Homo sapiens: one gene and its partners. The protein of the gene in region 3 purifies or fractionates together with the protein of the main gene of each other region. This does not show direct contact. Each region holds a gene or a part of one and is shown on either strand. Other genes may lie near its edges. The genes, in order: TWF2, ASNS, STK26, TNIK, TTC4, ARPC4-TTLL3 and PPP2CB.

Region 1 (4,704 bases), on a different chromosome or scaffold from region 3:
CTCTCCCCTGTTGGGAAAGGACAGTTATATGCACAAGACTGCCCAATTCCCAGGGCCAGAGGCGGTCTCTCAGGGCCAAGCACAAGTCTTGATTTAAAAATATTTTATTCTTTAGAAAATACAGCATTCAACCATCCCAAACTGCAGTGACCCCTGCCCCAGCCCTGACTGACCCCACTTCTTGTGGCCAAAGGTTTCTGGGCTGTGCTGGGACCCTAGTCTCAGCTCCCCGGGAGGCCAGGTTCATGCCAGGCCCCTGACCCAGCCCCCTTAAGCCAGCCAGGCAGGGTCCCCGGACACCCTGGGCACACAGACGAGATGCAGGGACAGCAACAGGGAAGGGTCACAAAATGCCAGCCCGGTGGCCCTCGGACGCTGCAAGTGCGTTCAGCTGCCAGCCCTCCTGACCTCCCAGAAACACTTTCCTGGAGCCCAGGAAGGAGGATGGTGGCAGGGAGCGGAAGGTGGGCAGCCCCACAGTCCACACGTGGCCGGCCCTGCTCCAGCCTCCTAGCTGTCATCCCCATTTTCACCCGGGCCGCGGATGAGGCGCTTATGGCCCCGCTTGCCCCCTGGGCCCTTGGGCTTGGCGAAGGCCTGCTTGAAGGCGTGTTGCTTGGGGTGCACCTCGTCGTAGAGGAACTCTGCCGTCAGCTCTGCCCCATCGCCAATCTCAATCTGCATGGGGCAAGGCAGTGGTCACCCCAATGGGAGGGGCTCTGACACACACCACCCCTGGTAGCCCCCACTCCTGGGGCACCCCTTACTCTCACATCCTAGCCCTGGGGTCTCCTGAGGTCTCCCCTTGATTCCCCACCTGGAATGCCACTCCCAGGAAAGCAAGAGCTTAGGGCCTGCTGCCCTGCATGCCTTGGACTCTGCTCGCTGGGGTCACCTCCTCCCTGTCTCCAGGCCCAGGGAAAGGACATGACATGGTAGCCAGGACTTGGACTTTTCTGAGCCACCGATCAGCTGGGCAGCCTTGGGCCATGCGTGTTGCTCCTTGGGCCTCAGATGCCCTATGATCAACACGACAGCAACGATTCCTGCTCTGCCGTCATCTCAGGACCCCAGCGCCCCACATGGAGATTGGAGTGATAGGGCCTGGGGAGGTGAGGCCCTGGGGAGGGCGCCTACTTTCTTGGCGATCTCCAGATGGAAGTCCTGCTCCACGGAGTCGAGGAGGCGGCTCTTGCAGCTGGAGTAGAGCATTCGCTCCTTGATGCTGCACTTGTACCCCGGCATGGAGTAGATGAACACTGTTGGGGGGCAGGAGGTGAGCCTGGGAGGCCTGAGAAACCTGCTGACCTTCGCACCCAGAGCAGGCCTGCCCCACTGCAGACCAGCCCTGCTCCCACCCAGCCACAGGCTTGGGAGCCCTGCCATGGCCACTCACCTACAGACTCAAGGGGGTCGCCCTCATGGGTGTGCTTGTAGAGGAAGAAGTGGTAGCGGGCAGCATCTCGGGGCACCCGGGAGGGCAGCTGGGCCACATCCGTGGGCTCTGTGTGCACCAGCTCAATGGTTTCCCGCTCTAGGTCCAGCTTCTGCCCAGGGCCAAGGGAAGATGGGAGAGCACCAGGTCGGGGTGGGCCCAGGCCCCTCTCCCCAGGAAGCCCTCAAACAGGATTAGCTGGTGGGCAGGAGCCTGATGTGACCTCCCTCTCCCAAGACTCCCCTGCAATGGCCATCCCTCTATGGGGGTCCCTCTGAAGAGGCCAGTCCTGGGCCCAGCCCCAACTCTGCCCCTTTGAAGGTTGTGCTAGAGAAGGAACTCCCACCAAGGGTAGTCAACGGTAGTGACTCCTGGGACAGGATGGTGTGGAGGGTCACAACCTCAGGGAGATACTGCCACTGGGCCAGCCCATCCTCAGAGGCAAGGCCTCTGGCGGAAGCATCTTGGAAGGGAGGAGCCGTTTTGCTTGAAAGCGGCAGCCGGAACAGCCAGGGCAGAAGGACCCTGCCTAGGGAAACGGGGTGGTCAAGGAGACAACAGAGGGGATCTCTGACAGGAAGGGCCTCGGGGCTGAGGGGTCAGTGTGACCCCAGGGGTATGGGTGGAGGGCGGAATGGGGCAGTGTGCTCACAGGTGTACCTGTGTATGAGCAGGGCCTGGGGACAAGGGACCAGAACACATCTATGTGCACACAGTGTCTGCGCCCCAGGCGGAATAGGTAGGGATCAGGGAGGGGTGGGGTGGACCATGTGTTCCCACAAGCACATGGACGAGCTGAAGGGGACAGACTGCAGGCTGGTGGAGTGGGGACTCCATGTACATCTGCACATGTGCATGGGCAGGAGTAGGGGTGGTGGCAGCATGTGCCAGGGTAGGGAGCAGGCACCCACCATCTGGATGTAGTTGACCATTTTCTGCTTGAGCTGCTGGAGTGCCCGCTGGGCCTCAGGCTGCAGGGGGAAGGCGAGGCCCTGCAGGGTCTGGTGCTTGCTTTCCACACTGATCTCTGTCTTCACCTGTGGGTAGGGGAATGGTGAGGGAGGCCCTCACCGGCCCAAAGCAGGGTGTGGCTCCCAGGCAGCACAGGCTGCCACTGGGCCGATATGACCCTGAGGGCTCAAGGCTGGGGCCTCTGCTCCCCACCCACCTCGTTAATGCGGATCTGCTGGAGCTCTCTCTCAGCCGAGGTCAGCGGGGCAGGTGCCGCACAGGACGACAGGTGTTTCTGGTACCCAGCAAAAGAGAGGTCATCCTGCAGGGGTGGGGGTGAATGCAGAGCCATAAATGGGCACCTGGGGATTGGCTAGAGGAGGCCCACGGAGCACGCCAGCTTGCAGCCCTTGGACTCCCCCAGCGCCCCCATCTTCCTCCCGAAGCTGGCACTAGCTTGCTCTCTGACCCTGCACAGTGACCCCTCTCTGTGGGCCCAGGATTGTGTCCCGGTAAGTCCTGGCTTAGGATTACCTTCACAGTCCCGAAGAGCTCATCCTTGATGTGGCCACCTCCAAACTCCTTTTTCACTGTGGCCCGCGTGGCCGCGTACAGCATCTTCAGCCGCACCTGAAGGGCAAGGGCCAAACCGTAAGAGGCCTCTGGGCAGGGCTGCCTCTCCCGGAACAGACAGGTGCCTCTGGAGGAACTCGGTGGGCTCACTGCGCTGGCACACCTGGCAGAGGGCCAGCCCGGGGCCAGGACGCAGCAGGTGGCCCCCACCAGCAGGGGGAGCCCTCGTCCAGCCTGATCACAGCCTCCGGAGCCAGGCTGATGCCTGGAGAGCAAGAGGTACCCAGGCTGCGGGCACAGGGACTTGACCCTCTCTCAGACTCCCTAGGGCACGGCCTGACAGCTCTTCCCCCACCCTCCAGGGGCAGGCCTGTGTCCCCTCTTGGATCCCCCAGGGCAAGGCCTTGTTGCCTGGCTCAGCCCCAGCTCCCCTCCTCACTTCCCACTGGCCCAGGACTCACGGGGGAGTTATCAGGCGACCAGGCGAGGAAGAGCCATTCGAAGCCCTGAGCATTCTGTGAGTCGAGGCGGTAGAGCAGGTAGCAGGGCTGCTGGGCGTCCAGCAGTGGCAGCACGGCCCTGTCATAGTCCTGATCCCAGCGGCCTACTGGCTCCTGCGAGGCACCCAGCACGAGCTGCTCTGGGGGCAGAGGCCGGATGAGCAGCCGCTCCCAGCTCCCACTGCGCCTCCCGCTGCAGACCTCCAGCCTCGCCGTGGCTGCCCAGCTGGCTCAGAGCCGCCGGCTGCCCCTCACCTTCCCTGGAGCCCCCAGGTCCCAGAAGTGTGAGGCTGTGTGGCTGAATGAGTGAGCAAGGGAAGGCACAAAGCTGCCACCTGGGGGCTGCCCCCCTGCACATCCCCAGCGCGTGCACACACCCCCCCACACACACACACGTGCGCAGATCACCAACACAAACAGCCACACAAAGACACGCAGCCGTCAGCCCCTCACGGACACCACACCCCTGGGTGCTCCCTTGGACCCCATCCCCACCGCACAGCTGCTCAGCCCACAGTCCCCACGAAACTGCCTCCTGCTCGCCTCCTCCCCTGGGGCTCCAGCAGAAGAACCGCAGCAGACTCCCCTCAGGACAAATGTGCTGAGGGGCAGGTCACAGCCCCAGGCCACAGGGACCTACAGGGGTAAAAGCCTCTGGAAAGGAGGAGCAGGGGCTCCTACCAGACCCTGGATAAACAGACATCCTGCGGCTACCTGCCAGCTGCAGTCCCCTCGAAAATGTCACAGATCCTTGCCGGGCGCGGTGGCTCACGCCTATAATCCCAGCACTTTGGGAGGCAGAGGCAGGCGGATCGCCTGAGGTTGGGAGTTCGAGACCACCCTGACCAACATGGAGAAACCCCGTCTCTACTAAAAATACAAAATTAGCTGGGTGTAGTGGCCTGTAATCCCAGCTGCTCGGGAGGCTGAGGTGGGAGAATCGCTTGAACCCAGGAGGCGGAGGTTGTGGTGAGCAGGAGATGGCGCCATTGCACTCCAGCCTGGGCAACAAGAGCGAAACTCCGTCTCAAAAAAAGAAAGAAAATGTCGCAGATCCAAAGCAGCCACCATCTAAGTGCCTAGGCCCCACAGGCCTGCTAGCTCCTTGGCTGAAATGGGGCATCCAGCTGCACTTGTAGACTGGGACCTCATCTGGGCACCAGACACCAGCCTGGGTATACACAGGTCTAGCCTGGAGCAATAACTGGGGCAAAGGGGCAGTCAGCCTGGCTGGGGGTCCTGGTG
Region 2 (4,179 bases), on a different chromosome or scaffold from region 3:
GTTTTATTTATTTATTTTTAACTTTTTTTTTTTTTTTTTTAAGAGACGGGGTCTTACTCTGTCAACCAGGCAGGAGTGCAGTGGTGCAATCACAGCTCACTGCAGCCTCAATCTCCTGGGTTCAGGTGATCCTCCCACCTCAGCCTCCTCAGCAGCTGGGGGTATGAGCATGAGCCCTCATACCCAGCTGTAACTAGTTTTAAAGAATAAAAATTATCTGACACATTAAAATTTCTTTCTTCCCCAAGAGATAGAAAGCAAACACTATCAGATTCCCTTTTGTAACCTCACAAGATACTCAAAAATATCACTGTCATACTGAAAGATGATAGAAAATAGTCAAACAATTCATACTTTTCTTAATATAGCATGAATATCCCTCCACTTCAGAGTGGTTACCTTGTGAAAATATATGTAACCCTGCGTAAGTTCATCTGATCCTTCTCCAGAGAAGATCACCACGCTATCTGTGTTCTTCCGAATATACTTGGAAATTAAATACATACCTTAAATGAGAGAGAGAAATTAACTTTAATGTCAACATAACCTTCCACCAAAAATGCCTTTGATTTGATTTTTGGAAATAATTGAAAGCTTTACTACTATACTGGACTTCATATTAATATAAAGTAGTTTCCACAATAATGACCTTGTATTTATAAGCCATTTATATGTACTTAATCCAAAAGTACTACTGTAAAATAAAATAACCCGGAACCATTTTGTCATTTTCTAAACAGGTTTTAAAATTCTAATGTTTTTAGACCAAGAATGTCCACCTCAAAACTTTGCTAAGCTGAACAATGACTCAAATACCTAAAAATCATGCCTTTCATAGTGGTATTATGACACAAAAATAAGAATAACCGTTTTGGTGGTTTAGTGTTAATTTTGATGGGTATTTTCCCCCTGCCACTCCCCATTTACCAGATTTCACATAAAGCTGGGGAGACTATATAAGTTATTAAACTTGCCTCCTTGGTCCTGCACCACATCTCTCTAAACCAGTGTTTCTTCTCAACCTTGTTTTTATTATCACCTCAGCTAGAGAGCCTTTTTAGACACTTATTTTCCTAACCTCACCCCAGCCCCATGAAATTCCAATACCAGAGCTATCCTGTCTATCTGCTTATTTACTGTGATGTTTTGGAGGGCCATAAACCATTGTAATACCTAAGATATTTTTGCCTTCCAAGGCAAGTCTCTCAAGGGAGGCAGTAGCATATAAAGGCTCAATAACACTGGATCAGTCTGATTTGGGGTATACTTCCAATCTCAGTAGATACATTATCTACAAGATAAAATTAGTATTGTTTGCAGAGCAATGATAGCTAGTGACTGGTAAGTTGTGTGATGGAATATATCTAAAATGACTATTTCTTATCAAAAATGCATTACCAAAAAGACCTATTTCCTCACTGTATATAGACTGTAGCCCAAGAAACTATAAGAGAAATGGGAGGTAGAGGGCAGAAAATATGTATCTGCTCCCTGGGGAAACACCAACAGTGACACCAACAATGTGGAGGTTGAACTACGTATTTACTATTCCCTTCACTCCAAAAGAGATTCAGAGAATTCTTAAGTGGTCTTAAATAATCAGTAACATAGGGATTTAATTTGCATTCATCCTTAAATAACATTTTAAAACTATGGCTTGAAATAATTTTTTTAAACCTTACATTTTTTTCAGTATTAAAAAAAGCTTTTTATTTAAGAATATCATAATACCTTACCTACTGAAGCACGAACTGTTGTAATGTCATAAGTTTCCAAGGAAAATATGACTTCATCCAGAGCCTGAATGCCTTCCTCAGAGTTAAAAAGGACTTCATAATGTTCACTTCCAATATGATCTGCCACCTTATTATATAAAGAAATACCCATTTACTTGTTAAAGAAAATAACTTCCCTTGAAAATCAAACATGATGGGAGTTCACAAAGCTTTATGAATTAACAATGGTGAAAACTAAACAAGGGAAAAAAAGAAAAATGACTTTACAGCCCACCACATACAAGCCCCATCCAGCACTGTTCCCTCGCCTGCTTCAACTCCACCACCAGGAAGTAAGTCTCCCCTCAGCTCCTCTGGTGCCAAGGCTTCAACCATTCTCCCAGTTGGCACCTCCCTCTCTACCTATTTTACCTAACCCACCTCATCTCTCTCTAGTCCAACATGGTCCCACGCTAAGCTTGGTCTTTTTTGGTCCTTCTTAAATGCCTAATTTTATATCCAGGATGTTATTCTTATATAGAATGGCCCTTCCCCTCATTCTGCTTTCCTTGGCTATTTTGGATTCTCTCGGCATTGATTACCTTGCACTGAGACTGCTCTCTAGCTTTTTCTCATCCATGCTACGAAAGTCCTCCATAGTGGGAACTAGGTCTCCCGCTCACTGAATACAGACAAGCTGCCCTCTGCCCACAGTATTCTAAATACAGTACTTTCAAAAATAATAATAACAGCTAACACTCATTAAGTACTTACTACATGCTAAGTTCTACCCTACTTACTTTACATGAATTATATCATTTCACCTTAAAATTTCCCCATAGCAGACACTATTATTTTGGTTACATAAATGAGTAGAGCCAGGATTTCAAACCACAAGTCAGGTTCCAAAGTCTGCAGTCTTAGCCATGATACTATGCCTTTACGTTTAAAAAAAAAAAAAAAAAAAAACGAACAAAAAACCCGTTTTTTTAATTTTTCAAGATGGGGTCTTGCTACGTTGCCCAGCCTGGACTTGAACTCCTGAGCTCAGACCTCCCCCCACAGCCTCCCAAGTATCTGGGACTATAGGTGTGTGCCACTGCACCTGACTTATGCCTTTACTTTCTTTTTTTTTTGAGACAAGGTCTCACTCTGTCACCCAGGCTCCCATAAGGCTAAGACTACAGGCATGCGTCACCAAGCCTGGCTAGTTTTTGTATTTTTTTGTAGAGATGGAGTTTCATTATGTTGCTCAGGCTGGTTTCAAACTCCTGACCTCAGGTAATCTACCTCCCTCAGCCTCGTAAAGTGCTGGGATTACAGGTGTAGGCCACCATGCCCAGACACCTTTACTTTCAAAAGAGCATACTTATCATCATAGGGTCTTTGTGAGAATTGCATGGGTCATAACAGATAAAAGTACACAGAGGACAGTGTACAACACAGTGCATATCCAACAGCCATTTCATTCTATTTTAATACAATCAATTTAAAACAATTGACCCAGTCAATACAGCAGCAGTAGAATCACCCATTATTGACTCCATTTTCATTCTAATAACAAGTCTACTCTAACTACACTACACAAGGGACAGAGACAGCACCTTACCTTTCTAGCAGCCAGTAAATCGGGGCTGTCTTCCATGCCAATTGCAAATGTCTGGAGAGGATACTGTACTTGGGCTTCTTTCAGCTGCTTCAACAGAGTGGCAGCAACCAAGCTGGAGTCCAAGCCCCCTACATGCAAAAGAGGAAGTGGAAGTGTCCTAGTTATGTGCCTTGCATAAGACAGGGACAGAAGATGTATATTCCTGATAAACACCAAGATCATAGTTTTACTATTTAAAATCCGCCAAGTTTTATAAACTGAAATCAACTTCAACAAGAGAAAAATATATAAACTGTGATAATAGTAGTATTTGAATTGGTTAAAAATCACTACACAGAATTCTAAAGAACATTCACTGACTCACTCTTAACACCAATAACATAGCTATAGTGTAACTCAAGTTGGAGTATGACTATGACTATTAAATACAGCTTATAAAAAATCATTTCCATCCTATAATGAAGGAAAGAGTAAATCATACAGTAAATATTTTATAGTAAAAACCAAAGGGATGGCTACAAATCATTTCAATTAAACACACATGAAATATAATTAGGTTTTTTTAATTGACTTCACCTGATAAAAGGCAGCCAATCCTTCTGTCTGTCATCAAACGTTTCTTTACAGCATTATTAAAAAGGATCCTGAGGTTGTTCTTCACAGTTTCTATCTCAAAACCTATAAACACAGCAGTAAATCAAACAGCTCCAGAAAATCTTGGGCTGGATTAGTTATTGAAATGAAATACACAATCATCAACATCTATCATGATGGTATTTACTCAATGGTGGAGTGTGCCAAATCTTAATGTGTTCCCTCCAAACAAAATAGGAAGTAGGTCTTGAAACTAAAATC
Region 3 (4,704 bases):
TGGTTCTTACAATGGTGGATAGGTTAAAAATTGTTTCTTCTGCCACAAGTTTGTTTCTAACAAGTACTATACTCTATCATATGAATTCAGAGAGCTTCCCATTCACCTGACATTTAAAAGAAAAAGATCTTATAAAACATGCCTGCCTATTTTGCAGTTCTGCATGAATGAAAGCACCTGTTTTCCAAGTTAAAAACAATGTGTGCCTTTTTGTTTGTACTAATTCAAAACAGAAACTTGCCAACTGTCTGTCAGTAAAACGTGTTCATAGAAAGCTTGAAATGTGACTTTACAAAGTAGTATATACCATTAAGCATTAAAATTACAACTACTCAATTTCTAGATCTGAAAATAAGGAATCCTTATTTGTTCTGGAAATCAGTGGTGGTGAGGGCTGCACAACACGCCTGTAATCCTGGTATTTTGGGAGGCCGAGGTGGGAGGATCGCTTGAGTCCAGGAGTCTGAGAGCAGTCTAGGCAACATAGGGAGTCCTCATCTCTACAAAAAGTGCAAAAAAGTAGCCAGGTGTGGTGGCATATGCCTGTAGTCCCAGCTACTCGGGAGGCTGAGGTGGGAGGATCAATTGAACCTGGGAGGTGGAGGCTGCAGTGGGCCAAGACTGCGCCACTGTACTCCAGCTCGGGAGACAGAGTGAGACCCTGTCACAAAAAAAAAGCAAAACAAAAAAACAAAACAAAAAAAAAACCACCCAAAAAACAAACAAACAAAAAAAACACAAAATCAATGTGAATGTAGCCAATGCCAGAGAGCTGTACACTTAAAATGGCAAATTTAGTGTTAAGTATATTTTGCCTGATTAAAAAAAACATACAGCACATAAGACTTTATAAAACTGGAAGTGACAGTAGAGATCATCTTGCCAAGAATATGGCTAGAAAATTTACCACTTCTGAGTCATTTTCCTCCAGCTTGGAATGCTGTGTCCCTACCCCACTTGCACCTTCCAACCCCTATCAAAATCATTCTCAAGACTTAGTTCAAATGCTACCTCCCTAGTTTGAGGGTTATTGCACTTGATGTACTCACAGATAAGCAGGCTATTAATATGAAGCAAGTTATAAACACATATCTGGGGCTGAGCAGAGAGGATGAAACCAGAGACATCAGTTTAGAAGTTGTCAGACGAAAGTAGATGAGATTAACCACAATATGCAAAAGAAGAGGAATACACATAGTAGGCATTAATAAATAAGCGTCTGTTGAATTGAATCTAACATGGGGCTTCTTAGAGGTGTATTATATTAAGTTTAAAGCTATTCCTATTTTGAGAAAAGAACATTTTAAGAAGGAACAAACTTTCTAGCCTCCATTTTCTTCAAGTTTTATAAGAGAACTCCAAAACAAATGTTAACAATAAAAGAATATTCCAGAGGCATTGAGCATACATAAACTGGCTGTAAGCACATACAGTTTCAGTGAAAAATAAGGAGAAGGCCACAAAGCCGTACAGATGATTCTGAAATATTTTACTTCATTCAATTCTTTTTTTTTTCATAAATACTGGTGATGGTGGGTGGGAGGCAATATTTCCTTAACATACACAGAAATCTAAAGGCAATTTTCAGCAGCAAATAAAGGCATGATTCAAATTCTATTCAATGCCTGAGTGTCATTTTAAGATTTACACTGAACTAGAAAAATATTTAAAGATTATAAAAGATTATTCCAATATTATGAGATCAGAAGGGAAGGGTTTGCTTATTTTAGCACTCTTCATAAAGACTAACTTTGTCAAGAAAATCTGCCCAGTGAACTAAAATTAAAGGAAAACACTGTGGTCATACTGATGTGTTTGTCTGGTTTTTAACTCTTGTTTTCAAAAATGAAGTTATACAGTGAGCTTAGTCAAAATGAATACCTAGTACATTTTTTGCATGTCTCAAGGAAATCACTACAACTGCATACAGTTTCAAAGAACATATAATTTTCTCTCAAATGTAATAAACTTTTCCTCCAGCTTACAGTGAGGTCTTAGTTATGGATGACATCCTGTGTAAGAACAACCCATTTCCCAGTTTGCTCAATTAACTTGACTCACAAAATCCTCCATGTCACCTGAAATGGAACAATGGGCCACAATAAGTATGTAAGTTGACTGATAACACAGTTCCCTGATGGCACAAAGAGGATGTGGCCTTGACTTATGTTGACTACATGAAACAGAATCCTGTTATATTTGACGTGATTTTAGTTTAGAAAAAAATACAAACCCACACAGTCATACTATGTTGTAATATAAATGGAAAATAAATGAGTTGGTCAATTTAAGAAAGTGATTTAAATACATGGTATGAAAACGTTGTAAGATTATAGAATATTTCTTTCTCTGTGTGTATATACATATGTCTCAAGACATATGTATATACACACAGATTTATTTACTTTAAATAGATTCAGAACACAAATAATCAACATAAGCCAGCTGCACATTTCTACAATTTTATCATGAAGCAACATGTTCTTCAAAGTAGTGTTTTATATCATAGAGTTTAGTTAATGATGGGTGAAGGAGATAAAAATAATTTGATTTAATCCCTTAAGAAGCTATCTTGGACGATGGTTTTGTAGCACTGGCTGGTCTGAGTACACTTTACAATCAAAATTTGGGACAAACAAAAAACTAGTTTTTAATTATTTAAAGATTAAGTAAATACTGGGTGACTAGTACATGTATACTACTGTGCAACTTAAAAAACACTCTATATGAAATCTTAGGAAAAGAAGATAGAGCTGTCACTCATTTTCCATGGGAGTATTGAATATGAATAAATAAGCAACCAATAAAATTGTCAAACCATATCAGTACCAATTTTCAATATATTATGGAATAGCCATTTTAAATAGGGCGTATTTAATATTTTAGGTCAGCAACCAAAAATAGTGTTTTTGTCACAGGTGCCTAAAAGTAGCAAGGATTCAGTTTTGCCCTAGAGTGAGTCTGGAAATACCGGGATTCAGTCCAGAAAGAGTAAACCAGAATGAGCAAATGATACACACACAGACACACACACACACACACACACATACACACACACGCACACACACACATGTACCACCAAGGAATTGTATGGGAATTAGGAGGAGAACCTAAAACTACTGAGACTGCGTAATCACTCATGAGATCTCTAAAAAAGAATATGATGGGCTGAATTAGCTTTTTAGGAACAAATATGACAGCAAAATTATCACACAAAGGAGCAAATAATTATGTATGTAGTAAAATACAGTAATAGCTAACACTTAGATGTAAATGCTGAAATTGGATAGAAATTACTAGCATTATCACCTCCTTTTGGAGGCCTTTTATTCATGCCACTCCTGAAAAGGACAGAAGTGACTACTTACTAATTTGTGCATCATCTATACCTTGTACATACTTTAACCATAAAATTGGCATCATTTCAGTGCAAAACTGGACTGTGAGTGCCTTGACAGCAGTAGTGAGTTTGTTCACTTTTATATCTTCAGCACCTAATACAGTGTGTAATATATAGTGGCTGTTTGGCTGCTTAATGATTCATTCTACTATGCATTCATACCACATACATCCAATATTAGAATAAGTCGGGTTTTGTAAACAGGCAGTGAAATTTGTGATAAATTTCTATATCAGTATTAACCAATATAGATACAGATAGATGGAAAGCGATGACAAAGTCACCAAGACGGCAGAGGAGATACCAGTTTTAATCATCCCCTCCCTCCACATATACATAAAAAGCCCCCAAATATAGACAGCTATCCACAAACCCAAGTAACTCTGGAAGGATTCAAGGGCCTATTTAACAATCTGCAGCAACACAGTGGAGCAAAAAAGAAAGAATAACTCCACAGGAAGGATCACTGAGGAGATCAGCATACCTGAGAGGCCAGGAAATGTCTAGGAACAAAGATGAAAGGTGGAGGCTATTGGTATCACTACACAGTAGAAGCCATCATGGTCCCCAGTGGCCTGCTCTGCAGAGGACACTGGCATCTCTTGCTACTGAGGTAGTCAACAGCCATTTCTGCCAGGGAACCCCAAGAGGAATACATGACTACAAAACTCTCTCATCTCAAGAAGAAGACATTGTTGAGCCACATGGAGAAAGAAGCCACCACTCTGAAAACTGATGCAGCTCCAGACCTCTGAGTCATGGCCACTCCACTAGTGCCCACACTCCAGACCCAGATTCTGCGTCTTCACTGAGCTCAACCATACCTCAGACATTGGAGCCACTGCCACAGTGAGCTAGCTCACACCCCAGGGCCCCGGAGCCAAGGTTTCTCTGAGTGTGCCTATGCTCCAGACATCCACACAGTCACCACTGAAAGCTAGCCTGTGTTCTGGACTCCAGACCAGCTGAGTGGTTGCACTGGACCCACCCACAGCTCAGACACTTGAGCTAATCACTGCCATAGTGAGCTAGCTCACATCCCAGGCTCTGGAGACAAGGTCCCTCTGAGCGTGCCTATGCTCCAGACATCAGCTCAGATGTTACAAATAGCTAGGCCCTACGCCACCCTCAGAGCCACTGTAGCTCTGTGCAGCAGTAGGGGGTATTTGTACCTAGGACGTTGGTATTACTATTGGCTTGGGCCCCAGAGCATGTCCCTCCAGATATGCCTATGCTTGAAGCCTTAGTTCTGTGGCCACTCCATGGGCATCACTCATTAGACACTAGTGCCACCTCAAGTGGGC
Region 4 (4,704 bases), on a different chromosome or scaffold from region 3:
ATATTGGCTGTGCAAACCTTTCATCTTCTGTTGCAGCAGAGGAAGGTAGTGGCCTAATTACTCAGAGGTGGAGACTGGGTTCTGGAAGACTTGCTGCTCATGAATTTTCTAACAATTCTATTTTCAGTCCCACCTTACACCTCCACTTCCACCTGAGATTCCCCTGGGGCCTTAGTTCCTGGGCCTTTCCAGGTTCTGTTGGATTGATTTTGATCATTTTCCTCACTGCAGATTCAGAATTCAGAATTTCCTGGTATTCTAGGTCTTTTTCCAGTCACTCAGCTACTCTTTCGATTTTACCGACATTTCTTCTCTTCTCTTGGTCCCACTGTCCTCATAGGCTTATGGCATTTTTATTCTTTTCTTGTCATTTTAATGAGTCTTTGGAAGAAAGTAGATATAAATGTTCAAACTGGAGCCTAGGACTTTATTCTGAATGCACTCTTTCAATTTCATCAATCTGGCTTTTAAAAAATATAAATAATGCTGAAGGTTCCAGCAACATCTGAAGCTGGTCACACATGCATCATCAATCTGATAGAAAAAACTAGGTGAAACCTAACTAAGTAAGTCTGATTGAGTAAACAGACCAAACTTATAATTCCATGTCTTGAGACTTACCAACTTTATAATGTATACAGCCTTCCAAGTCCCCAACAGTGATCCAGCCTTGTTTCTTTTCTACTTCTGGGTCATTATGTAGTATTCTGTTTCTTAACCATGAAAGATAGTAAACTCGTAGCTTATTCTTCTTTCCTGTTGAAATAATAGAGGTTTAATTTCAAATTGCTGTGACAGCTCTCACTTTTTCCTTCCCCACCTCCATTTATTTCTAATTTATTTTATTTACGTGTGTGTGTGTGTGTATGAAGGCATAATAACCAGTGTCCCCAGCACTTTGTCATTAAAATGGTGTTTCTGCCAGAACTTATGGTTAAAATAGCTCTACGTGTTTTAGACACATCACAGAATTACAATGTCTTTTATCTTCAGGTGGTTTCTTATTTGAGCATGTGCTCTTACTCTCTCTTCCCAATGCAAAGCAGTGTCTGCTGAACTTAGTAAGAGCTAACTCTTCAACAGAGTGATCAGAGTTCCAGAACATTCTAGATCAATCACATGAAGAAGTGTTGGCAACTGGGCATTTTGGCACCTGCCTTTCCTTCACCGTATAACCTAATAACAAACAAGAGGATAATATGGGTTCAGAAAATTATACTGGGCAGGTTTATGGTGCTGAAGTCACTGAAAGGAATACTGAACAAAAATAGGAAAAAAAGGATGCAAACTTGAAAACTTAAATTTCCGTTTGGTAAAGTGATCTTGGAATAAAGAATTCATAGGATGATAAAATATTTAGACAATATTGAAGAGTACACAAGTAGCAAAACTTGATATACTCCATTTGATGATTTGCACCAGATAAAATGTCCATTGGGATGACTCTTCCTAACTAATGATAAATTTAGCTCTATGGGTTTTATTTTTTGGATACTTATTTTTCTTTATCTTAGGCTTTAAAAATGTTTTATTTATTTATTTATTTATTTTTTTTTGAGACATGAGTTTCACTTTTGTCGCCAAGGCCGGAGTCCAGTGGCATGATCTCGGCTCACTGCAACCTCTGCTTCCTGGGTTCAAGCGATTCTCCTGCCTCAGCCTCCCAAGTAGCTAGGATTACAGGTGCCGCTCCCAGCATGCTCAGCTAATTTTTATATTTTTAGTAGAGATGGGGTTTCACCATGTTGGCCAGGCTGGTCTGGAATTCCTGACCTCAAATGATCCGCCCGCCTCGGCCTCTCCCAAAAAAAATGTTTTATATTTTATAGATGAATATATACCAGCAGAAGAGAACTTAGTAAAGCATTACACATGCATTTGACAGGAGAGCACATTCATCACCTAAACTAAGGGAATCATTGTGTGGTCAGTATTCAATTTTGTAACCAAAGGCCTAGAATCCACATTGATCACAGTAGCTAGGATGGACACGAGAGCCAGTGTTTCCTCCTTTCTATGCCAATATGAATCCAAGGTTAGTTCAAGAATCTTTTGCTCCTATTTTCATTTTCTCCTTTCCCTATCTGTGCCTCATGAGAAAAGGAAACTCTTACACTGTTAAGAATGAAGATGTGCCACTAACAACATAATGAAGTCTGAATGTGAATTTTCTGGTTGCATTCCCACTTTTGGCAGATATGCAGTTTTCATTTTGATTTGGTAGTATAGCAATCAGGACAGCAATTAACCAGAACAAAAGACTACATGGGATTAAACTCAAATGGCAATACAAAAGGAATTTACCTGGTTAACCTTATTTGGGGAGAATAAAAAGAGATGAAACTGAGCATTCAGTGGAAAGGTAAAAGAAAGAGGAAGTTTAGTGACAAGCAAAAGCATTTTGTCAAAATGGAAGTACAGCTGAACTTTGAGGAAAGTTCAAACCAGCATCCCTGTGTTGTCTCTTCGTGAAACAATGGCTGAGCATAAATCCATGTTCTCAAACTTGGCTGTACAATGGAAACACATCAGAAACTATGAACGCTCCTGATGCCTAAACCCCACCCCCAGAGATTCTGACTCTGGTCTGGGGGTGCAGCCTAGATTTTCACATCTCCCTAGGTGATTATAAAGTGCAGTAGCAAGTTGGTTCCATACTAGATGGAATGAGAGGGGAAGTGACGGGTGTTACTCGTTAAACTCCTTCAAATACCAAAAAGAAAAAAAACTTTCAACAAAACTACCCTCTTTTAGGTTGCATTTTTAACTTGTTACAAGGCCTTCACTTTAGTCTCCATCTTTTTTTTTTTTTCCTATATAAGGCTCTTTTTGGGAATCAGAAAGCTACAGAGCATAGCAGTAATGATTCCCACACTCAAATCTTTTTGTAGACTTGATCACCCAGTGTGCCAGCTGCACCTGCCAAAACATCAGTGGGCTATAAGCAAGAGAATTTTTGAGGGAAGAGACCAAGAAATTTCTGCTTACTAAATGTCCCTCTAGGAAGCCTGCATTTTGATATTCTGTCTGTATGTGGTAATAACTGGAGTGCAGAAACCTTAAAAACATCCGAAGATCCTTGCTGAGTCCTGACAGAGGTAAAGAGCTATAAATATATAGCCTTTGTGGTATGTCTCTGCCTAATTCAGATTTAATGCAGAGGTGAGAGACTTCTTTTTGGAGGTCAGAATTCCCAGTGTTACAAAATGTGGGCAATCTCACTCTGGCTATACTGCTATACTTTATTGTGTTGTTTGTTAGCTGGGAAGGGCAGAACTAACTGTTTCTGCAGAAATGAGGTGGATCCCTTTCCCGCTGTATGGACCTGGGGGACTCATCATCTTAGTAACATACCTGAAATTGTCACAAGGACATTCAGTCCCTCTAGCACATCCATCTGCTGAAATCGCCTCCGGTTGATCAGATTATAGACTTTGCCTTGCCCACTTCGGTCCAAAAGCATCAGGCCATTTTCAGTCCCCACCAGAAGGTTTACACCTGTAAATTTAAGAAGCACCCTAAGACTGACTTTTCATGAACTTTAATCTTCTGCATCGAGAGTCCCTATAAAATTTAAGAAACTGTGACTTGTAAATATACACTAATGGGCAAGTAGGTAAATATAAACTAATGAATGTAGAAGCTCTGACATAATAATTAAATCATTGTACTTCTGGTAATGAAATTACAGTTTTCTTTTATAAAGTTAGCAGCATTCATACATCTAGTTATTTACTACCTAATGCAGAGAGTCCTTGTCAATAGGAGCCTTAGGCACAGATGTGAAGCTAGCATAATTTGCCTTTATTCCCTGCCTGGAAAAACCACTTCTTTCTTGGCTCTCCCTATAAATCACTTCTCTTCTTCCCCAAGATTCACCCCCACCCCTATGCAGTGGTCTCTAGCCTACCCACCTTCAATATACAGTGGAATTTCCATTTCCATACTCCAATGGAAGAAAGGCCCTTCCTCCTTCTTGAATCAAAATGTAACTATCTTATGCCCCATACCCTCAAGTTTTTGCTCTTTTTTAGGGAAATGATAAACCCATTCAAGAGAAGTGTTAATAGCTGGAGAGTCACAGACATACTCACTTTAAGGGACTTCTCAGGTCTCTAAATCTAGTGCAGCCCAACACCCATGCAGTAATCCCTATTACAGAAGCACAGGCACATAAGTGGCTTTGTCTGGGTAGTTGTAATCCTAAAAATTTATGGCTAGGGAAATGTATCATCCACCCCTCAACACACACACACATTGAGAGGCTCATTGTGCAGTGTACTTTATTCATGAACATGTAACTCTCTAACTTCTCTTACGTCTTGTACTTCTATCTTCTGATCAACACAAATGTCTGCTTTTTTGTCCATATATTAATCCTTTCAGTATTAAATGTGGCTATCTTGTTCTCTTCTGTCTCTTCTCCAGAGGACAGAGCCTCTATCATGAAATGGTTCCTAGGCTTCACACTCTTCCCCGCTAACATCTCAAATGCTTTCAGCCTTTTAAAATTATGGTTCCCCAATCCAAGCCTAGTATTTTCAGTGGGTACACAGGGGACATGTCCTTCCTTAATCTGTATGAGATGTTTATAGTAACACAGACCAAGACTTTGATAGAATCTCATCATGCCTCTCCTGAGTTTGAGGTCAGCTAAAACCTGCAGATCTTTTTCACGAGAAAATGCAGATTGATGTTTTAAAC
Region 5 (3,500 bases), on a different chromosome or scaffold from region 3:
ACCCTGGTGTACACCACAATCAGGATAAAGTTTACGCTCCTTAGCAGGGCATTCAGGCCTTCGTGTATGGCCCTAACTTAGCTTTCTAGCCTCATTTCCTACCACATCCAACCACTCTCTTTACACTAATACATTGGGCTCTTTTAGCTTAAGTGCAAAAGCATCTGCTTTTCTCTGCTTTGCTTTGCTCAAAGCTTAAGGAAAAGTAGTCCAAGAGTCAATTTGCAAATCTGCTGAGGGCTTTCCCTTATAGTCCAGGAACACCTCACAGCTTCTCTGAGACAACTGCCAAATCCAACTTGCTGCCACTGCTAATGACAAAGATGCCCTCCTATAGCAGGACTGCCCTGTGCAGTTTACAACAGCACTTCAACTCCTATCCTGTCATTGGCTCTCAAATACTTGAGAAATGTGTAGGCATGTATTACTCCCATTCCAGAGATGAGGCGGCAGTCCCAGAGAGGCAGCGTGTGCTTGGAGTCACACAGCCAGTAAATGATGATGGGTCTGACTTCAAGAGCCAATGCTTTCTTCATATGACAGTATCAGGAGCCGGGTCACTGGCATGCACTTGATATTCCAGCTACCTGGGAGGGTGAGGCAGGAGGACTGCTTGAACCCAGTTCAAGACCAGCCTGGAGAAGATACCCTGTCTCTATTATAAAAATAATTTAAAAAAAAATTTTAGGGGCTGGGTGTGGTGGCTCACATCTGTAATCTCAGCACTTTCGGAGGCTGAGGTGGGTGGATTGCTTGAGCCCAGGAGTTCAAGACCAGCCTGGCCAACATGGTAAAACCCCATCTCTATTTAAAAAAAAAAAAATTCAAAATAAGAAAAAGCAAACAAAAGAAAGAGCATCAGGAGACATAGGTATAGGTACGATTAGGAAAAGGAAGGCTGGCCGGGTGCAGTGGCTCGCCTGTAATCCCAGCACTTTGGAAGACCGAGGTGAGTGGATCACCTGAGGTCAGGAGTTTGAGACCAGCCTGGACAACATGGTGAAACCCCGTCTCTACTAAAAATACAAAAATTAGCCAGGCATGGTGGCAGGCGCCTGTAATCCCAGCTACTCAGGAAGCTGAGGCAGGAGAATCACTTCAACCTGGGGGGTGAGGTAGAGGTTGCAGTGAGCCAAGATCGCACCACTGCACTCCAGCCTGGGTGACAGAGCGAGATGTCGTCTCAAAAAAAAAAAAAAGGCCATCCTAGCAGCCTTCATGTACAAAAAGCCAGGCAGCTTTTCCCTTCAAAGACCAGTCCTATTTATCTCCCCTGGTCTGGAGTGTTATGGCTGTGGTGCAGTGGGCTATCATCACACTGGAGCCTGTTTGACCAATGGCTGAGTTTTATGGGCCCGGCCAGTCTCCATGGCTGCTGTCTCACACAGCTCTGTGCTCAGGGCAGAAGGGAGGGGAGTATGAGGCAATCAGTCAGCAGCGGAATGAGAACCTGGCTCTACTCCTCGGATGGTGCCTGAGTGATATGGTTTGGCTCTGTATCCCCAACCAAATCTCATCTTGTAGCTCCCATGATTCCCATGTGTTGTGGGAGGGACCCGGTGGGAGATGACTGAATCATGGGGGTATGTCTTGCCTGTGCTGTTCTCGTGATAGCGACTAAGTCTCACGAGATCTGATGCTTTGAAAAATGGGAGTTTTTGACCGGGAGTGGTGGCTCATGCCTGTAATCCCAGCACTTTGGGAGGCCAAGGCAGGTGGATTACCTGAGGTCAGGAGTTCAAGACCAGCCTGGCCAACATGGTGAAACCCCGTCTCTACTAAAAATACAAAAGTTAGCCGGGCGTGGTGGCAGGTGCCTATAATCCCAACTACTCAGGAGGCTGAGGCAGGAGAATTGCTTGAACCTGGGAGGTGGAGGTTGCAGTGAGCCGAGATCACACCATTGCACTCCAGCCTGGGCGACAAGAGCAAAACTCCATCTCAAAAAAAAAGGGAGTTTTCCTGCACAAGCTCTCTCTTTTTGCCTTCCGCCATCCACGTAAGAGGTGACTTGCTCCTCCTTGCCTTCTGCCATGATTGTGAGGCATCCCCAGCCACGTGGAACTGTGAGTTCTCCACTAAACCTCTTTTCTTTATAAACTGACCAGTCTCAGGTATGTCTTTATCAGCAGTGTGAAAATGGACTAATACACTGAGCATCTTCCCCAATCTACTCAGCGCCATGAGATGACTCACCTCTGGTGCTGTAGAACCTGTAGCAAGGTGCTCTTGGCAGGCACCCGGTATAGTTCTGCCCTGTCCTCATCCTCAAAGTAGACCTGCAAGATTAACAGAAGGGCAAGAGTCAGAGATAAAGGCTTCGGCAGCCTTAGTTGAGGCTAAGCCCAGGGAAAATTAAAAAGATGGCAACGGTTAGTAGTTGAATGCCTCCTTTATATGGTTGTGTAGCTGGGTGCTTTGCATTTAGTACCCCCCCGCCATGCCACTGTAAAAGAGGCTATTATCAGTTCCATCTTCCAAAGACAGAATCAAGGCTCAGAGAAGAACAACAACTTGCCAACATTACCCTGCTGGTAAACAGAAGAATCAAGACTCAAGGCCAGGCCTATGTAGCCCTCCTTTCCCTAACAAATCAGACTAAAGCCATCAGGTATGTGGAGGAGAAAGCTATGGTGGCTCAGAGAAGGAAAGAGCCTGAAGAAGGAGAGAAGGATGTCTGTGCAGGGTGTCAAAGCCCAAGCAGGGTGAGGAAGACGCCTGCACAGGAAGCTCCCGGGGGTGTCAGAGCAGGACCAGTGAAGAAGAGCATCCATGCTGGGGGCCAGCAGGCCTGAGCAGGGGAAGAAGTGCTCCCTTGTAAGATGGCTGTCCAAGGTGGGGTGTCAGAGGCCATGTGGGGTGAAAAGGGTATCCATGCATGGGGACAAGTAATATGGAGTTTACAGGCCCAACTAGGGTGAGGAGGGTGACCACTCATGGCAGGGGGTGGCCTGCTGTAGGGTGTCAGAGCCCAAGCAGGATGAGGAGGATGTCCATGTAGGGTCGTTGAGCAGTGTGGGATGTCAGAGTCTGTGCGGGGTGAGAAAGACGCCCACGCTGGGGCAGCAGCGTAACATGTGGAGTCAAGAGTCCAAGTAGGGTGAGGAAGGCTCCACATAGGAGAGGGGCCAGTGGTGATGACAGGAGGGGAACTGATCAAACAAATAACTATATTAAGAATAATAAAGTCAGGCCAGGCATGGTGGCTTATGCCTGTAATCTGAACACTTGGGAGGCTGAGGCAGGTGGATCACTTGAGTCCAGGAATTCAAGACCAGCCTGGGCAACATGGTGAAACCTCATCTCTACTAAAAATACAAAAATTAGTTGGGCACGGTGGCAAACGCCTGTGGTCCCAGCTACTTGGGAGACTGAGGTGGGAGGATTGTTTGAGCCCAGGAGGTTGATCTTGGCAGTGAGCCAAGATCTCCCTACCGCACTCCAGCCTGGGCAACACAGCTAGACTCTGTCTCAAAAAAACAAAAACAAAAAAAGAACAA
Region 6 (4,704 bases), on a different chromosome or scaffold from region 3:
TTTTAAGTTTACCTGGCAAGGAGTCTGTGGAGAAGATTCAAGTACAAATTCAGGCAACAACTGACCCAATGTTAACTGTGGCTTTAAGAGACTGATTCAGTGGGCCGGGCGCGGTGGCTCACGCCTGTAATCCCAACACTTTGGGAGGCCGAGGTGGGCGGATCACAAGGTCAGGAGATCAAGACCATCCTGGCTAACACAGTGAAACCCCGTCTCTACTAAAAATACAAAAAATTAGCCGGGAATGGTGGCGGGCACCTGTAGTCCCAGCTACTCGGGAGGCTGAGGCAGAAGAATGGCGTGAACCCAGGAGGCGGAGCTTGCAGTGAGCCCAGATTGCAGACTATGATTCACTTTGGGAGGCCGAGGCAGGCGGATCACCTGAGGTCAGGAGTTTGAGACCGCCTAGCCAACACAATGAAACTACTAAAAATACAAAATTAGCTGGGCATGGTAGCACATGCGTGCCTATAATCCCAGCTACTCGGGAGGCTGAGGCAGGAGAATCACTTGACCTGGGAGGTGGAAGGTTGCAGTCAGTGAGACTGCGCCACTGCACTCCAGCCTGGGCAACAAAAGCAAAACTCCATCTCAAAAAAAGAAAAAAAAAGGCCAGGCGCGGTGGCTCAAGCCTGTAATCCCAGCACTTTGGGAGGCCGAGGCAGGCAGATCACGAGGTCAGGAGATCGAGACCATCCTGGCTAACATGGTGAAACCCCGTCTCTACTAAAAATACAAAAAATTAGCCAGGTGTGGTGGTGGGCGCCTGTAGTCCCAGCTACTCAGGAGGCTGAGGCAGGAGAATGGCGTGAACCCGGGAGGCGGAGCTTGCAGTGAGCCAAGATTGTGCCACTGCACTCCAGCCTGGGCGACAGAGCGAGACTCCGTCTCAAAGAAAAAAAAAAAGAGAGAGAGACTATGATTCATTTGGCAGATCTTAGAAAGGATTTCTAATTCACTGTGCTCTTTCTGATGCTAGACTATAGGCTCCGGGAATAAGCAATGTGTCTTATCTTTTTTGCCTTTTTTTTTTTTTTTTTTTTTTTTGAGACGGAGTCTTGCTCTGTCGCCCAGGCTGCAGTACAGTGGCACGATCTTGGCTCACTACAACCTCCGCCTCCCAGGTTCAACCAGTTCTCTGCCTCAGCCTCCTGAGTAGCTAGGATTACAGGCGCCCACCACCATGCCCAGCTAATTTTTGTATTTTTAATAGAGATGGGGTTTCACCATGTTGGCCAGGCTGGTCTTGAACTCCTGACCTCATGATCCACCCACCTCGGCCTCCCAAAGTGTTGGGATTAGAGGCATGAGCCACCACGCCCGGCTCTTTTTTGCCTTTTCTATGGCTGAGGTAGACCCAACTTTTCCTAAGCTTCTAATCCTCTTTGCTCCCACTCCAAGATGAAGGCCAACTCTCAATTCAGGCAGTGGGTGCCAAACAGCTGGAGTAGCTGGTTCTAGAAACAATCCCAGGCCATTCTGTAACAGGGTCCTGGGTATCGCAAACTCATGGGTCACAGGGTCTCACCTCCACAGGCTTCCTTCGAAGGATAAAGAAGTTCTCTGCTCGCATCATCATGAAGCGCATGAACTTGTGGCACAAAATCTTCTCGATCTCATCAGCCTGGGGAGTGCAAGAGAGAAATGTTTCTCTAAAGCTGACACCCAAGGCCAAAAACACCTTGTAGCCTGGTCTTCTGACTCCAGTTTTTTCAAGGCTCCCAGGAGACAGTGAGGTTTGGTACTCGGAAGGATCACTGAAGTGGGGGACCTGGCTGTCAACTGAAACAAGGGTCTACCTTGGGGCATCTCTTAATGACGACCCATTCCAGAGAGGTAATTCTGACAGGCTTCTATTGCTTCTTTCAGAGTCTACAGCTGTACTCCAAGCTGCCCTTTCCATTCTCATTTCACTAGTGTCACATTTCCCAGGGTGTTTTGCAGCATCACCTGGGCTATCAGAGATAACCTTAGGTGGTCTCTGCTTTAATAACACTGAACATCCAACAATCCCTGAAGTTTCTCCCTTCTGAATGCTCAACATTTCTTTTTTTTTTTTTTTTTTTTTTTTTCTGAGATGGAATCTCGCTCTGTCACCCAGGCTGGAGTGCAGTGGTACGATTTTGACTCACTGTAAGCTCTGCCTCCCGGGTTCAAGCGATTCTCCTGCCTCAGCCTCCCAAGTAGCTGGGATTACAGGCGCGTGCCACCACGCCTGGCTAATTTCTGTATTTTTAGTAGAGACAGGGTTTTACCATGTTGGCCAGGCTGGTCTTGAACTCCTGACATCAAGTGATCCACCCGCCTTGGTCTCCCAAAGTGCTGGGATTACAGGCATGAGCCACTGTGCCTGGCCCTGAACTCTCAACATTTCTAAAGGAAGATTATTGCTGCTGGTTGCTAGCATGCCCTTAACACCTCTCAACACTTGTTAACCTCCCATTTTAGCAAGGAAAGCAGGCCCCAGGTTTATAAGTTTCTGTAGAAAACAGTGTGTAGTCTGCATTTAATAACAGTGCTTCGTTTTCATCCTGTTGAAAGTTTAGAGTTGCCCTCTACTGGCCAGGCATGGTGGCTCATGACTGTAATCCCAGTACTTTGGGAGGTTGAGGCGGGCCCATCACCTGCGGTCAGGAGATGGAGACCATCCTGGCAAACATGGTGAAACTCTGTCTCTACTAAAAATACAAAAATTAACTGGGCGTGGTGGCGGATGCCTGTAATCCCAGCTACTTGGGAGACTGAGACAGAAGAACTGCTTGAACCCGGGAGGCAGAGGTTGCAGTGAGCTGAGATCATGCTGCTGCACTCCAGCCTGGGCGACAAGAGTGAGAATCCGTGTCAAAAAAAAAGGAAGCAGAGGCTAGGTTTCCTGCACTCTGAATCTGGAATCTGGCACACTGATCTCTCAGATGGGGACCCCGGACTGAAAGAGGCTGAAAGGACTGAAAGAGGCCTTACGTTGGGCCTCCTCCATGGTGAACTTACCTGTTTCACAGCAATGCTGACCCGGACAGAGTTGATGGAGCCCTCAATCAGAACCTTTTCCTTCTCATTCCTGCTGATGGTCACAGGTTGTAACAGGAGCTCTTTGCTACTCCTGAAAACATAATGTGACAGAGTACTTGTACTACAGAGGGATAGAATAGTCAGAGTGACCCCACGCAGGTCCTGGAATCACTATGAGACCATAGAGTCCAAGGAATAGAAGACTCACAAGCAGGAGTGCTCCAAGATGGGGGCCAGTGAGTGTGTTCTTCAGCAGAAAGAGCACAGGCTCTGAAGTCAGGGCGAAAAGGTTTTGAAATCCAGCCTCCTCTGTTACTTTCCTTGGGCAAGTTACCCTGTTGGAATCTCAATTTTCTCATCTGTAAAATGACTCTGATTCCTAATTCACTGGCGAGGACTGAGAGAGATCAAAAAGGGTCAAATGTCTAATAGCGTGCCTGGCACATAGTAGGAGCTTTACAAAAGATAGCTATTTTAGTAACTACAAGTTGAACATCCCCAATCTGCAAATCTGAAATCCAAAATCTGAAACTGGCTGGGCACAGTGGCTCATGCCTGTAATCCCAGCACTTTGAGAGGCTGAGGCTGGTGGATCACCTGAGGTCAGGAGTTCGAGACCAGCCTGGCCAACATGGTGATATCCCATTTGTACTAAAAATATAAAAATTAGCTGGGCATGGTGGCGCACTCCTATAATCCCAGATACTCAGGAGGCTGAAGCACGAGAATTGCTCGAACTCAGGAGGTGGCAGTTGCAGTGAGCCAAGATCATACCACTGTACTCCAGCCTGGGTGACAGAATCAAACTCCATCTCAAAAAAAAAAAAAAACCTGAAAGTTTCCGAGTGCTGACAAGATGCTCAAAGGAGATCCTCATTGGAGCATTTTGGATTTGGAATTAGGGATGCTCAACTGGTTAAGTATCTGCAAATATTCCACAATCTGAAATACTTTTGGTCCCAAGCATTTTGGATAAGAGATACTCAACCTGTACAGGCAAACCAATATACCATTTAGGAATACAGAGAGAACACCTGTCTTAGAGGTAAGGAAAGGCTAAAATTGAACACAGTTTGGCTTCCTTTAATTATCAATCCAGAAATGATTCATTTGCCTCTGAGACCCCTATGAGTTCAGGTTACAAAGTAATGCCTCTGAATACCTAGAGATCTCTAATAGTAATTAATTGTGGTGTGGTGTCTCTAAACTGCTAACCATTTTCAAAGGCCCACTGGAAATCGTGTACGTTACACAGTATAACAGGGCATATCCTAACATCTTTATCAGTTATTTTTAAAATTAAAAATTAAATCGTATCATTTAATGTTGTAACCCAGATTATCTCAGTTATGTATGTACCAGAATGAATTTTATTTTATTTTATTTTATTTTATTTTATTTTTGAGACGAAGTCTTGCTCTGCTGCCAGGCTGGAGTGCGGTGGCACGATCTTGGCTCACTGCAACCTCCGCCTCCCAGGTTCAAGCAATTCTCCTGCCTCAGCCTCCCGAGTAGCTGGGACTACAGGTGCATACCACCATGCCCAGCTTATTTTTGTATTTTTAGTAGAGACAAGGTTTCACCATGTTGGCCAGGATGCTCTCGATCTCTTGACCTCATAATCTGTCTGCCTCGGCCTCCCAAAGTGCTGGGATTACAGGCGTGAGCCACTGTGCCCGGCCTATTTACTTATTT
Region 7 (4,704 bases), on a different chromosome or scaffold from region 3:
ATTTTCTACTGTTTGTTTATTTCTACTCTAAACCTCGTTTCATAAGCTTACATCAGGTTTAGTTTACTCTGCTTTTTCTAGGTCCTCAAGTATAAAGATAGGTTACTGATTTCAAATCTTCTTGTTTTTTTTTTTGTTTTTTTCTTTCTGAGACAGGGTCTTTGCTCTGTTGCCTAGGCTGTAGTGTAGTGCTGTGATCATAGCTCATTGCAGCCTTGATCAACTGGGCTCAAGTGATCCTCCATCTCAGCCTCCCATACAGCTGAGACTACAGGTGCTTGGCACCATACCTGGCTAATTTTTAAATTTTTTTGTAGAGACGGGGTCTCCCTATGTTGCCCAGGCTGGCCTCAAGTGATCCTCCTACTTTGGCTTCCCAAAGTGTTGGGATTACTTGTGTGAGCCACAGCATCCAGCCATGTTAATGATTTCTAATTTCATTTCCTTGTGTTTGGAGAATATCCTTTTAAGAATCTAATCTTCTTAAATTGCCTGAGGCATGTTTTACAGTCTAGCATATGACTATGTTTCATGTTTACTTGAGAGGAAAGTATTCTGCTGTTGTTGGGTGTTGTTTTACAGACATGAGGTATACAGTCAGTTTACAGTGTTGCTCAAGTCTTCTCCTGCCTTCATCTCCTGCCTAGTTGTTCTATCCAAGAGAAACAGTTTCTGTTGCTTAGTTTTTTCCTGTGTAGAGGTCACACTTCCTTGTTCTTTCCATGTCTTATAATCTGTGGTTGAAAAATTGGACATTATAGATAACATATTGCAGTAGCTCTGGAATTCATGTCCTTGGGGACTGATCTTGTCTTTTTGGTGGTTTATTATTTTTGTTTAGTGACTTAGCTGAACTAACTGTAAAGTCTACTTCCCCCATAGTGTGCAGCCCCTGTGGCCCTGCTCGGATGTTTTTACTTTTTTTTTTTTTTTTTGAGTTTCACTTTTGTTGCCCAGGCTGGACTGCAATGGCGTGATCGCCGCCGCCTCCCAGGTTCAAGCGATTCTCCTGCCTCAGCCTCCTGAGTAGCTGGGATTACAGGCATGCGCCACCACACCCAACTAATTTTGTATTTTTAATAGAGACTGGGTTTCTCCATGTTGGTCAGGCTGGTCTTGAACTCCCGACCTCAGGTGATCCGCCCACCTCGGCTTCCCAAAGTGCTGGGATTACAGGCATGAGCCACCGTGCCTGACCGTTTTTACTTCTTTTAATCTTTCACAGCCTGGCTACTGAGGGGCTGTCTCTGGGTAGGCATAAGCCACTTACTGATCAAAGATTGTACTTAAGCCCCCTTGGCCAGTTAGATCTTAAAGCTCACCCTAATGGCCACCGGAAATGTTATGTGACTTGCAGATTGCTATCAAAGCTGAAGGAGTTTATATTTTGGCTTCCCATTCAGCCAGGGACTAATAGTTGGATCTTCATACTGCACTCAGTCCAGAGAGGGTATAACCTTGGGCATGCACATATTCTGCCAGACTGTCAGGGATGAGTGTGATTTTATTTTAAAGCCTGACTACCTAGGAGGTGCTCCTGGATCAGAGTAACTGAATGTCGTTCAGTCAATGATGAGAGGTTGTGTTTAAGCCTCACATACTAGTGATGGTTACACCATTTGTTGATCAATCTACTTATCCATTTCCTGGGGCTGCCGTAACAAATTACCGAACTGTATAGCTTATACAACGGGGATTTATCCTCTCACAGTTCTGGAGGCTACAAGTCTGAAAGCAAGATGCTGGGAGGACCACGCTCTCTCTGAAGGCTCTAGGAAAAATCCTTCCTAGCCTCTCCCTAGCTTCTGATGGCTCTGGCAATCCTTAGCTGGTAGATGCATCACTTGAATCTCTGGCTTCACACAGCATTCTCCCCTGTGTGTGTTTCTTTTCCTCTTACTAAAATCCCATTCGAATTGGATTTAGGCCCACCCTAATCCAGTACAATCTCATCTTTAATAATTATATCTGTAAAGATCCTATTTCCAAATAACATCACATTTTGAGGTTCTGGGTGGACATGAATTTTTTTGGGGGGACATTATTCAACTCAGTACAATCTATGTGTGGCTTGAAAATATTATATGAATACCCCACATCCTACTCTTGACTGCTCCTGAGTGGGTATGGCTAGTGCATGTGCACAGCCTTCTTGTCCCCCAGGGCTGACTGTGATCCCAGAAGGGCTCTTCTTGGCTTTTTCCCTGGTGCTATTTGTTGAACAACATGTTGCTCTGCTCTTTTGTATGTTGCTCCTAGTATCATGGGAGCTATTACAGCCCTCTTAATTGGTCTCCACCATGACATCTACTGCTTTCCACAAAGCACTCAGATTTGGAATTCTCCATCACCTAAGTAAGATAAGTCCTCTGAGGCAGAGCTGAGGAACTTCTGTGACCTGCCTTTCCTCCTGAGCAGAACTTCTGTGCCAGTGCAGGCTCAGTGATACCACCTGGTTTATAAGCAGGTGCTGGGGTAACAGCATTGGGAAACCCAGCATTCTCATCTGCCATGCATGCCTGGAGCAGAGCTTCTGCCCCAGGAGCTGGGGCAGGGAAGGGGGCCTCAGCCTGCTTGACTGTGTCTACCAGGAGTAGAGCTTTTGTAACTCCAGACTAGGAGAGGTGAGATATGCTGGCATCTGATCTCTGGGAGTGAACCCACAGCCCCAGCCCTGGGAGCTGATGAAGAGGGGGAATCCCTTAGCCTCCTGACTATACCAACCCAGCGTAGAGCGCCTGTAGTCGTTTCTGTGAGAGGGATCTGGGAGGAGTTGGAGGGGGCAAGTCATAGCTCAAATGCCACAGACTACGGCTATTATTACTGAGATTTAGTAGGTTTTCTTGAATTAACTGTTTCTCCACCTGCTGTATGCCCTTAGGACAATTTCCAAAAGCTTTGAAAAATTATTTTTTAAAAATAATGTTCTCCAGCTAATGGTTATTTTTGCTGGAGAGGGGCTTTGCTATACTCCTCATCCAATTTCAGAAACAGAAATCTTCTATTTTTAACATTTAAAATTTTCCTTCTGAAAGTATATACAATTAAAATTTACAGTTACTCACAAGGAATATTTTAAAGTGTCATCTAATTCCATGATAGCAGCCTGGTTCCCACAACGATAACAGTAATTGGGTGCACTGAAAATGGTAACCACATTCCGATCATGACACCAATTGTATCCCTGCAGGATAAAAACAAATTCATTATTTCATTATAATATTATGATTTTGACACAGACACATTTAAAAAAAACTAAACTCAAAAACTACAGGTACTCTCTGTGGAAATGTAGTCGTCTATATTACTATATAAGGTCTCCATCTTTAATAGTTTGTGTACCTGTAAAGAATACTGTGCAATTCGTGGGCCTAGGAGTCTGTTAAATGCAGCTCGCTAATTGTTGTTTTGCCGTATCTATGCTTGAAATCTTGGCAAGGATGTGTACTGAATTTCTCCCACAATCATAATTAATTTCTCAATTTTCCCTCATGAATTATGCCAATTTTTTCTTTATATATTTTGAAGCTATTACTAGGTAAATACAAATTTAGAATACTTTCTTCCTAGAGAACTGGGCCAGTTTTCATCAATAATCTCTTTATTTCTAATAATACCTTTTATTAGAGCCTATCTCATTCATATTATTAGCTATAGTATTATATATAGTGTGTATACATACATGCTAATTAATGTATGTGTATATACATATGTATATATACGTGTATATATGTATATATGTGTGTGCATATATGTATACATGTGTATATACATGTGTATATACATACACGTATATATGTATGTATACATGTATGTGTGCGCATATATGTATACGTGTGTATATGTGTATATATACGTGTGCATATATGTATACACACATACATGTGTGTATATATGTATACATATATATACATACATTAGTGTATGTATGTGTGTATATACACACACACACACATCCTGTGTTGCCCAGGCTGGAGTGCAGTGGTGCGATCTAGACTCACTGCAACCTCCAACTCCTGGGTTCAAGCAATTCTCCTGCCTCAGCCCCGAGTAGTTGGGACTACAGGTGCGTGCCACCACACCAGGTTAATTTTTTGTATTTTAGTAGAGACAGGATCTCACCATGTTGCCCAGGCTGGTCTCGAACTCCTGAGCTCCAGCAATCCGCTTGCCTCAGCCTCCCAAAGTGCTGGGAATAGAGGCACGAGCCACCACGCCAGCTCATTAGCTATATTTTTGATATTTTGATTAATTACTTGATATACCAATATACCATTTTCCAACTCTTACCTCTAGTTTGTGGTGTCTTTTTCTTTTTCCTCGTTTTTTTGAGACAAGGTCTCACCCTTTTGCCCAGGCTGGAGTGCAGCGGTACGATCATAGCTCACTGCAGCCTCAACCTCCTGGCCTCAAGTGACCCTCTCACCTCAGCCTCCTGAGTAGCTGGGACAATAGACATATGCCACCATGCCCAGCTAACTTTTTGACTTTTTTTTTTTTTTTATATAGAGATGAGGTCTCACTATGTTGCCCAGGCTGGTCTGAAACTCCAAGACTCAAGAGATCCTCCCACCTCGGCCTCCCAAAGTGCTGGGATTATAGGCATGAGCCACTTTGTCCAGCCAATCATTTATGTTTTAGGTACATCCCAAATAACAGCTAAATTTTGATTATTTATCCAATCTAAGAGTCTCTTTCAGGCTA

Evidence for each region.
Region 1: the proteins of STK26 (region 3) and TWF2 fractionate together in Homo sapiens (co-fractionation; one large-scale study listed by BioGRID). This does not show direct contact.
Region 2: the proteins of STK26 (region 3) and ASNS fractionate together in Homo sapiens (co-fractionation; one large-scale study listed by BioGRID). This does not show direct contact.
Region 4: the proteins of STK26 (region 3) and TNIK purify together in Homo sapiens (co-immunoprecipitation; one study listed by IntAct). This does not show direct contact.
Region 5: the proteins of STK26 (region 3) and TTC4 fractionate together in Homo sapiens (co-fractionation; one large-scale study listed by BioGRID). This does not show direct contact.
Region 6: the proteins of STK26 (region 3) and ARPC4-TTLL3 purify together in Homo sapiens (affinity purification with mass spectrometry, with the first as the bait; one large-scale study listed by BioGRID). This does not show direct contact.
Region 7: the proteins of STK26 (region 3) and PPP2CB purify together in Homo sapiens (affinity purification with mass spectrometry; 2 studies listed by BioGRID and IntAct, with this or other methods). This does not show direct contact.

What each region holds. Positions count from the first base shown.
Region 1 is NC_000003.12:52,228,524-52,233,227, forward strand, and holds the end of TWF2 (twinfilin-2), read right to left. Parts: intron 3,600-4,704; coding exon 3,421-3,599; intron 3,017-3,420; coding exon 2,921-3,016; intron 2,709-2,920; coding exon 2,604-2,708; intron 2,473-2,603; coding exon 2,347-2,472; intron 1,548-2,346; coding exon 1,397-1,547; intron 1,260-1,396; coding exon 1,138-1,259; intron 679-1,137; coding exon 511-678; 3' UTR 89-510; downstream 1-88. UniProt on the Homo sapiens protein: Actin-binding protein involved in motile and morphological processes. Inhibits actin polymerization, likely by sequestering G-actin. By capping the barbed ends of filaments, it also regulates motility.
Region 2 is NC_000007.14:97,854,954-97,859,132, forward strand, and holds part of ASNS (asparagine synthetase [glutamine-hydrolyzing]), read right to left. Parts: intron 4,003-4,179; coding exon 3,901-4,002; intron 3,453-3,900; coding exon 3,325-3,452; intron 1,864-3,324; coding exon 1,737-1,863; intron 507-1,736; coding exon 400-506; intron 1-399.
Region 3 is NC_000023.11:132,056,598-132,061,301, reverse strand, and holds part of STK26 (serine/threonine-protein kinase 26), read right to left. Parts: intron 1-4,704. UniProt on the Homo sapiens protein: Serine/threonine-protein kinase that acts as a mediator of cell growth. Modulates apoptosis. In association with STK24 negatively regulates Golgi reorientation in polarized cell migration upon RHO activation.
Region 4 is NC_000003.12:171,078,897-171,083,600, forward strand, and holds part of TNIK (TRAF2 and NCK-interacting protein kinase), read right to left. Parts: intron 3,499-4,704; coding exon 3,355-3,498; intron 757-3,354; coding exon 622-756; intron 1-621. UniProt on the Homo sapiens protein: Serine/threonine kinase that acts as an essential activator of the Wnt signaling pathway. Recruited to promoters of Wnt target genes and required to activate their expression. May act by phosphorylating TCF4/TCF7L2.
Region 5 is NC_000001.11:54,736,361-54,739,860, reverse strand, and holds part of TTC4 (tetratricopeptide repeat protein 4), read right to left. Parts: intron 2,280-3,500; coding exon 2,197-2,279; intron 1-2,196.
Region 6 is NC_000003.12:9,798,581-9,803,284, reverse strand, and holds part of ARPC4-TTLL3 (ARPC4-TTLL3 fusion protein), read right to left. Parts: intron 3,101-4,704; coding exon 2,989-3,100; intron 1,625-2,988; coding exon 1,529-1,624; intron 1-1,528. Other genes in the region: ARPC4 (actin-related protein 2/3 complex subunit 4), read right to left, coding at 1,529-1,624, 2,989-3,100.
Region 7 is NC_000008.11:30,788,132-30,792,835, forward strand, and holds part of PPP2CB (serine/threonine-protein phosphatase 2A catalytic subunit beta isoform), read right to left. Parts: intron 3,185-4,704; coding exon 3,066-3,184; intron 1-3,065.